Homo sapiens: one gene and its partner. The protein of the gene in region 2 purifies or fractionates together with the protein of the main gene of each other region. This does not show direct contact. Each region holds a gene or a part of one and is shown on either strand. Other genes may lie near its edges.

What was found.
Region 1: the proteins of TRIM38 (region 2) and H2AZ2 purify together in Homo sapiens (affinity purification with mass spectrometry, with the first as the bait; one large-scale study listed by BioGRID). This does not show direct contact.

Annotation. Positions count from the first base shown.
Region 1 is NC_000007.14:44,845,007-44,849,354, forward strand, and holds the start of H2AZ2 (histone H2A.V), read right to left. Parts: upstream 3,082-4,348; 5' UTR 2,966-3,081; coding exon 2,963-2,965; intron 1-2,962. UniProt on the Homo sapiens protein: Variant histone H2A which replaces conventional H2A in a subset of nucleosomes. Nucleosomes wrap and compact DNA into chromatin, limiting DNA accessibility to the cellular machineries which require DNA as a template.
Region 2 is NC_000006.12:25,965,564-25,969,378, reverse strand, and holds part of TRIM38 (E3 ubiquitin-protein ligase TRIM38), read right to left. Parts: intron 3,045-3,815; 5' UTR 2,857-3,044; coding exon 2,446-2,856; intron 55-2,445; coding exon 1-54. UniProt on the Homo sapiens protein: E3 ubiquitin-protein and E3 SUMO-protein ligase that acts as a regulator of innate immunity. Acts as a negative regulator of type I interferon IFN-beta production by catalyzing 'Lys-48'-linked polyubiquitination of AZI2/NAP1, leading to its degradation.

The DNA of each region.
Region 1 (4,348 bases), on a different chromosome or scaffold from region 2:
AAAAAGAAATCAGTTTACAAGATTGGCTGTTTGAGGGGCTATTCTTTCAAAATAGATGGTAAGCTTTGAAATGGCATATCCCCTTTGTAGCTAACCCTTTCCTTAAAAATTTTTTAAAGCTAAAAATTACCCCTGTATACTTCCTCTAATTGCACGTCTAAGTGGATTAAGTGCGTGTCACCCAAGATAATATGGAAGAAAAACAGTAAAACCCTGGCAGGTATCAGAAACAGGAAAAATAAAAATCTAAGAACTAATTCATATTCACTCTCTTATATTAGGTAATTCAACAAGAGACTGATTTAAGTTTACCAGTAAGAACTGAGACGCTCTCTATTTCTACCAGAATGCCTCATATTTTAATAATTTTTGACTATGTTGTTATATAAGAAAAATACAATTTTTGGATTTTTGAGGTCAGCTCCACTAACAAGACAGTCTTACTTACTTCTCAAATAAAAAACCCTTGTTACCTCCATTTGCCCTAATATATAACACTTAAAAACCTCTCAACTGGCATCTAAAATTATAATCACTGTCTTCCTATGACTGGATTGGAAAAAATAAGAAGTAGTCACTAATAAAAAGCCAACAACTACAAAATTCCCCAGGCTCCCCAGGTCATATAATAACTACTCTGCTTAAGCAATTTTATCCTCACTGTTTCAGATATGTCATATTTGGTGTTCTATTTGCTTTTTAAGGAAGTAGACATACAGTCAGGTTTTAAAAGCCTCAATCCATTAAATGACTATTTCCAACATTTAGAGATTCCTGATACATTTCTCATACTTAACAAAAGAAAACTTTTATGGTATCAAACTTATCTGAATATAAAACTATACAATAAATGGATAATTACTTTCTTTCCGATATCCCCTCAAACTGTATATATAGCCTCCCTACTTTGAACATTCATTTTAATATAATTGGTGCTTGAGAACCCAAATCTAAATTTTTTAATTCCAAGAACTGACTTCGTATTAACCTGAGTTAAGGTTGTTGGTTTTAAAAAATTACACACACACACACACACACACACACACACACACACACAGAGAGAGACAGAGAGAGAGAGAGAGGAGGAAGTAGGAGTTCGTTCATTTTACTTGGATAAACTTGCAAACTGGATACTAAGACACTTTCATGTCAGTTTTAACAGACATCTGCTTACTTCCTCTCAGGTTTAAAATCTATCAAGAACGACAACTCAATGTCTCCTGCATTTTTAGCTTATGTTAATACTTATGTATTTTTAGCTACTGGTAAGTGGATATAAAACATATAGCGTATCACTAGAGATTGAAAAATATCTGAAAAACTAGAATTGGCCGTGCGCGGTGGCTCACGCCTGTAATCCCAGCACTTTGTCAGGCCGAGGGGGGCGGATCACAAGGTCAAGAGATCGAGACCATCCTGGCCAACATGGTGAAACCCAATCTCTACTAAAAATACAAAAAATTAGCAGGGCGTGGTGGCGCACGCCTGTAGCTATTCGGGAGGCTGAGGCAGGAGCATCGCTTGAACCCGGGAGGCGGAGGTTGCAGTGAGTGAAGATCGCCCATTGCACTCCAGCCTGGCAACAGAGTGAGACTCCGTCTCAAAAAAAAAAACCACAAAAAACCACAAAAAACAAACAACAAAAAACCAAAAAAAAAAAAAACCACAAAAAACTAGAATCATGAAAATCATCTGTTTGAGCAAATCCTTTTACAGATTAGATGTAAGCTGTACCTCAGTTTGATAAAGTACTATAAAGTACTTTACAATAACAATAAACTATACGTGAGACGTTGGAAGCAATTATCCCTAAAGTCTATTCCAGCTCTAAGATTTGGGTTTTTTACAATAACAATAAACTATACGTTAGACGTTGGAAGCAATTATCCCTAAAGTCTATTCCAGCTCTAAGATTTGGGTATTTTACAATAACCAAACATTGTCCTCTCGACTGGCCAATCTGTTTACAGTTAGGTGTTATGTCTATTCAATACCATATCTGTCACATCAAGCACAAGACAAATCATCTAATACTATCTGCAGTATGATAAATGACAGCTTGGTGCTAACTTTTAAGCAGGTAGCTCCCGTTGAAGTAACCTTTCAACAGAATGCTTAAAGCACGAATACCGGCAAAAATAAGATTCCATAACAGTCTTATTATTTTTACACAATCTTTGATGCAACTCAGAGCGTATCCTTTAGCACCTTCTCTTTTCCCCTCAACTTTAAAATGGGGCTGAAGTTCTATTCACTTTCATTTTTTTAAAGCCACACTCTTCTTATCTAGATCTGAATTTCAGAATGAAAAGATGAATACTTTAAGACTGAAAATCCATAGCAAGGGCAAAGGAAAGTACTGTTGTATAATGAAAACCGCAAACTGCAAGGGGCTCAGAAGATAACGGGCGTTCATTTCTAACCTGTGCAATCACCTAGAACAAATCGTGTGGTTCTGGTCTATAAAACCATTCTTTGTCGCTCAAAAGACCACAAATACAAGCACCCTTTCGCAGAAACCCTCAAACTGACTGCCAGGGAGATTACGTAACCAAACATCGCCAAAGACTTATCTAACTTGTACAGCGGCAGCCTGTTTGACCTCATTCATACAGAGAAGCGATCACATTAAGATCCAGCACTTGTTTCTACATTTCCAAGCCGGATTCTGCCGTCCTCCTCCTTCTAAGACGGGCGGTGCAGCGTCACAAGCGTCGGGACAGATCTATCCGGCTCGGAACAGACTTCGCGCTCTACCCGGCCAGGCCCAGCTCTCACCCGGGGACCCGTGTCGGGCTCCGCAGCTGGGACATGGCGCCCCCCGGCGGGCGGCGAGGGGCTCGGCCGGACGAAGCCCAGACACCCGCAAACTCCCGACTCCACAGGTAGCGGCGCCGACGCCAGGGCCTCCGCGCTCTGCTCTCCCAGGCCCCGTGCCCCCGGCCCACCCGGCCGCCCTTACCATGTTCTCGGCGCCGACTCCGCCTCCGCTCGGCCGCGCGCCCTCCCGCTGCCGACCCGCGCCGCCGCCGCCGCTCTCGCAGCACCGACCGCCGCCGCCGGAGCCGGACAATACCCCGTGCCCGCCTCGCGCTGCTGTGGCCAATGCCCGCTTGTCTTGCTGGTTCGAACCCCAGCGGCTGTTCAATCGCGCGCCTCCTTCTAGCCAGACCCCGCCCCCCCGGCACCGCCTTCCTAACGGCTGTTTGTTTTTGCACACGGCACGCGGAGGCGGGGCCTCCAGCCCCAATAGTGACGCGCTCTCTGCCTTTCACCAGGCGCCCAAGCCTGACGAACAGAAAGGCAAACCAATGAGATTGGACGCCTCGCAGACGAAAGCCAATAAAAATATCGCCCGCGAGCAAGGGAGGCGGGCCACTGGGAAGGACAGCAAAATTAGCTAATAAGGTGAAGCGATTGCAGGCGCTGTGGCTTTCCCGCCCATTCGCGGCGTTGGTTTTCCCGCTTCTGAGACTTGTTTGGGGAGGTAAAGAGTGTTGGACGTGCTTCTCCTGGTGGGTTTTCACAGACTGTGAGGATTTATTCGTCTTAGAACGTGTGGATCAGGAGGGCGCTGGGTTTCAAGGTTAGGCAGGCCTCATGCTCAGCCGTATTCTGGCGGACTGACTACCCTGACGTCCTCTCAGCGCGGACCCTGACAAGGTCCGCGGCAGGCTGAGGCGGGAGAATCGCTTGAACCCCGGAGGCGGAGGTTGCAGTGAGCCGAGATCGCGCCACTGCACTCCAGCTGGGCGACGCATCGTCTCAAAACAAACAAACAAAAACAAAAGCTATCAATTGGCTACATATTGTTATTTGTATGACAAATTCTTTTTCCTTTTTTAGAGATGGAGTCCTGGGACTACAGGCGCGCGCCCCAATGCCCAGCTAACTTTTGTATTTTTAATAGAGACGGGGTTTCTCCGTGTTGGTCAGGCTGGTCTCGAACTCCTGACCTCAGGTGATCTGCCCCCCTTTGCCTCCCAAAGTACTGGGATTACAGGCGTGAGCCACCGCGCCCGGCATGTATTACAAATTCTAAGAACACGAAGATAATGGGGCCGGCTTGGTGGCGCGAACCTGTAGCCTCACCTACTGTCAAGACTGAGACAGGAGGATCTCTTGAGCCCAGGAGGTCGAGGCTGCAGTGAGTCATGATCGCACCACTGCACTCCAGCTTGGGAGACAGAATATACCCTGTCTAAAAAATAATAATAAAAAAAAAGGTAATGGATGAGGCCGATAGTCAGGAATGAAATGACTTTAAACAATTGGGTATGCATGGGATTGGGTATGTGTGTATGTGGGGGCAGAGGGTGGGCATAACCGAAGTCCCATACTCATGTCC
Region 2 (3,815 bases):
CGTACATCTGTCTTCAAGTTGCTTCAGTTTTGTCACAGCTTTCTGGAGCTTTTCCTGAAGGAAAAATTTGATAAGTGAAGCCTATTCAATTTGACTCTTCATTAGGGACCTAGGGGGAATCCCAATCTTCTAAGATATATTTGAATAATAGTGAATATTTATAGAGTCCTCATTGTTTTTTGCTAGAGAGCATGCTAAAGGCTATATGTGCAGGAACATACTGATCCCCTTGGCAACCCTGAATAGTTGGTAGGATTTTAAACTTCATTTCTGTGCTGTAGAAAATGAGACTAAGAAAGGGGTAAAATAACTTGCCCAAAGGGCTATGACTGCCAGGTGGTGGAGCAACAATTGCAATCTCATCTGCTGACCCAGAGCCTGAGCTATGTCCACCACTAGAGTCCTGCCAGGAAAAAGTTGGATATAGAACAAGGTAATCATCATCTAAAAGATTTTGTAAAACAACATGCTGAACCAAGCAAAACCAATACCAGTGTTTGGCACACATGAAATTTTGTGTCTTATGAGTCAGGAAAAATCAGGATGCCAGCTGGTTATTAGAAACAGTTCATGGAAGAGGGGAATTCTGGTATCTTTTGAACAATGGTATCATGAATCCAATTTAAAATGATTTAGTATTCATGTCAAGCTTTTAGCTTATTCTTCAAAACAGTTTCTCATATTTCTATTGAAAGTGATTTGAAGCTGACCCAAATTGCTAATTGTAGTCAATGCTGAAAGAATTGTCTCCTGTCCTCTGTAAACCCAACAAGTATACTCATTCATTCTCGAGTGTTCTCAGGAAAAGGTTCTATGTAACTGTTTTAGCAAAAGATGACATTGTCCTTACTATATGCCAAGTGCTATTCTATGCATTCTATATTTTAATGTCCTCAAAGCTTATAACCACCTCCTGTGTATGTGTTTTAGGGAGGGAGGACACTGCTATTATCCCCATTTACAGATGGAGAAACCAAGGTGTGAAGACATTAAGTAACGTGCCCAAAATTGCCCATCTAGTAAGTGACAAAACTCAATTTCAACATAAGCTGGTTCCTTTTCTTACTACTTGGTGGAAAAGTAATTCAAATGGGAATATGATCATCGCAGTTATTAGCTGCTCCATGGAGTTTAAGGAAGAGCTGCCATGAGCTGAGTGGTGGTCATGATTGACATGTCCTTAGAAGGACTTAGAGCCTTCATACAAGACCACCTCTGCCTCATGGAGGACAGAATAAGGAGCCTGACACTGGAGACAACATTTTCCTCAAATTTAGGCAGGACAGAGAAGGAAAAAGGACATCAGGACTATGCCCATTCCTCCATGCTGCCAACAGCAAAGTCCCACCTTCCTTAATATGCTTTCTGGCAAGAAATCTGGATGGTACACAAAACCTCTCCCTCTGCTTCACCTTCCACAACCAAGCATTTCCAAATCTTTGACTCTTCTTCCTGAATCGTGCTTAAAATCTGCCCTCTCCTCCCTTTCTTATACGGATAGTTTGAATTTTACTCCTTGATATTCCTTTTATCATAGACATGCCACAGTAGCTGGGCACAGTGGTTCATGCCTCTAATCCCAGCATTTTGGGAGGCTGAGATGGGAGGGAGACCAGGGGTTTGAGGCCAGTATAAGCAAGAAAGGCAGACCATGTCTCTACAAAAAATAAAAAAATTATCCAGGTATGGTGGGGCATCCCTGTAGTCCTAGCTACTTGGGAGGCTGAGGTGGGAGGATTGCTTGAGCCCCAGAAGGTTGAGGCTGCAGTGAGCCGAGATTGCACCATTGTACTCCAACCTGGGATACAGAGCAAGACCCTACCTCAGGAAAAAAAAAAAAAAAAAAAAAAAAAAGTAGAGGTACCAGAGTGATATTTTCAATGTCACTGACCCTTCATTCCCCAAATGAAAATCCCCCAATAGGTGTTCAATTTTTACGTGTCCTTCAGGAGTTACTTCTAAGATGAACCACTCTCTACCCTAAATGTCCCTCCCCACCACCAAAACCAGGGACCTCCAGGCAGACATTTTTGATGGTTTGTTTTCTTTACTAGACTGTAGATACCTAAAAGGTGATGGGTCTTTCTTCCCTGTTTTCAGGCCCTACTGCATGGCTTTACATATTGTGGTTTTTCAAATGATATTCATGGTGTGAAACAAGAAAAAATGCGGGTGTTTGGTTTGAGAACAACCTGTTCTAAAGCAAAAAGAAATTCATCATAACACAAATGGATAGAGATAAGAGTCCAACCATCCCATTGAAGGTCAGGATGGACAGTCTAGATAATTGAGCAAGAAATCATCATAAACTATTTTTCAGAAGAATGACATGATGAAAGCTGTATTTCCAAGTCATAATGTTAGGTTTCAAGTTAAATCATCTCAGCTCCTGGGGAGCAGGATAAGACTTGGTACTTACCAAAGCTCCCGGGCCCACACACTCACCTTGTAGCCCTGGCATACGTCTTCAACAAGAGCTGTGGTGTGCCCTTTGTGCTGTGGTGCCCGCTCACAGCGCCAGCAGATGAGCTGCCCCTCGTCTTCGCAGAACAGGTGGAACTGCTCTCCGTGTTCCTCACATGACATTTCTTGATCCGTCTCTTTGAGGGCTTCAATGAGGCTTCCCAGCTGCTTGTTGGGTCGGAGGCTATCCATATGAAATGGAGCCCGACACTGGGGACAGCAGAATGTCTCCTGCCTCAGTTGCTTTTGGCTTGGGTTTTTAAAGAAGTCTGTTATACACAAGTGGCAGTAGCTGTGTCCACAGTTGATGCTTACTGGGTTCGTCATCAGGCTCAGGCAGATGGAGCAGGTGGCTTCCTCCATCATCTTCTTGGTGCTGGTGGTTGAGGCCATAGCTTTTATTGAAAAGCTCCAATATTGGCTCTAGAGATGGAGATGAAGCAGCCAGAATTTTCCACCGTGATGAAAATACACCTCACCTGCACCTCTATGTGATGAGCTGGCTGCAACTGACTTCCATAGGTCTTGAAGGTTTTCCTTCCAACCCCTATTATCTCATTTTGTATTGAAGAAAAGAGGACCTAAAAGGAAGAAGTTGAGGCTGAGGTTGTTTGGGCCACGTTTGAGAACTGCAACCCAAGTGCAGAGTTTCAAGTTGCCCTCATTAGCAAGCAGTTACAAGTGGTTGTTTAGAGGAAAAAAAGCAGTTTTAAAGCAGTTTTAAAGTTGTTTGCCAAGAATTTACATTAAAATAGCATAAGCTTTTGACTGGCTATACATTGTTCTTTGTATTACAAATCTCGGGAATATGTAGGTAATAGATGAGGCAGCCAGTCAGGAACAAAATGCTTTTAAACATGGGGTCTTAACTGAAGACCTATACTCCTGCCTCACTTGTCCTGATAAATTTTGCATACCTCACATAGCTCAGACTGCTCTAAATTATTTCATTATTTTTCTTTTCTCAGTCTTCTAACTTTTTTTTTTTTTTTTAATGAGACGGAGTCTCACTCTGTCACCCAGGCTGGAGTGCAGTGACGCTATCTCGGCTCACTGCACCTCCGCCTCCCGGGTTCAAGCGATTCTCCTGCCTCAGCCTCCCGAGTAGTAGCTGGGTCTACAGGTGTGCACCACTACGCCCAGCTAATTTTTGTATTTTTAGTAGAGATGGGGTTTCACCATGTTGGTTGGCTCGATCTCTTGACCTTGTGATCCACCCGCCTCAGCCTCCCAAAGTGCCAGGATTACAGGCATGAGCCACCGTGCCCAGCCTCTTTTTCTTTTCTTATAAGACAAGTTCTCGCTCTCTTGCCCAGGCTGTAGTGGAGGGCAGTGGCATGACCACAGCTCAC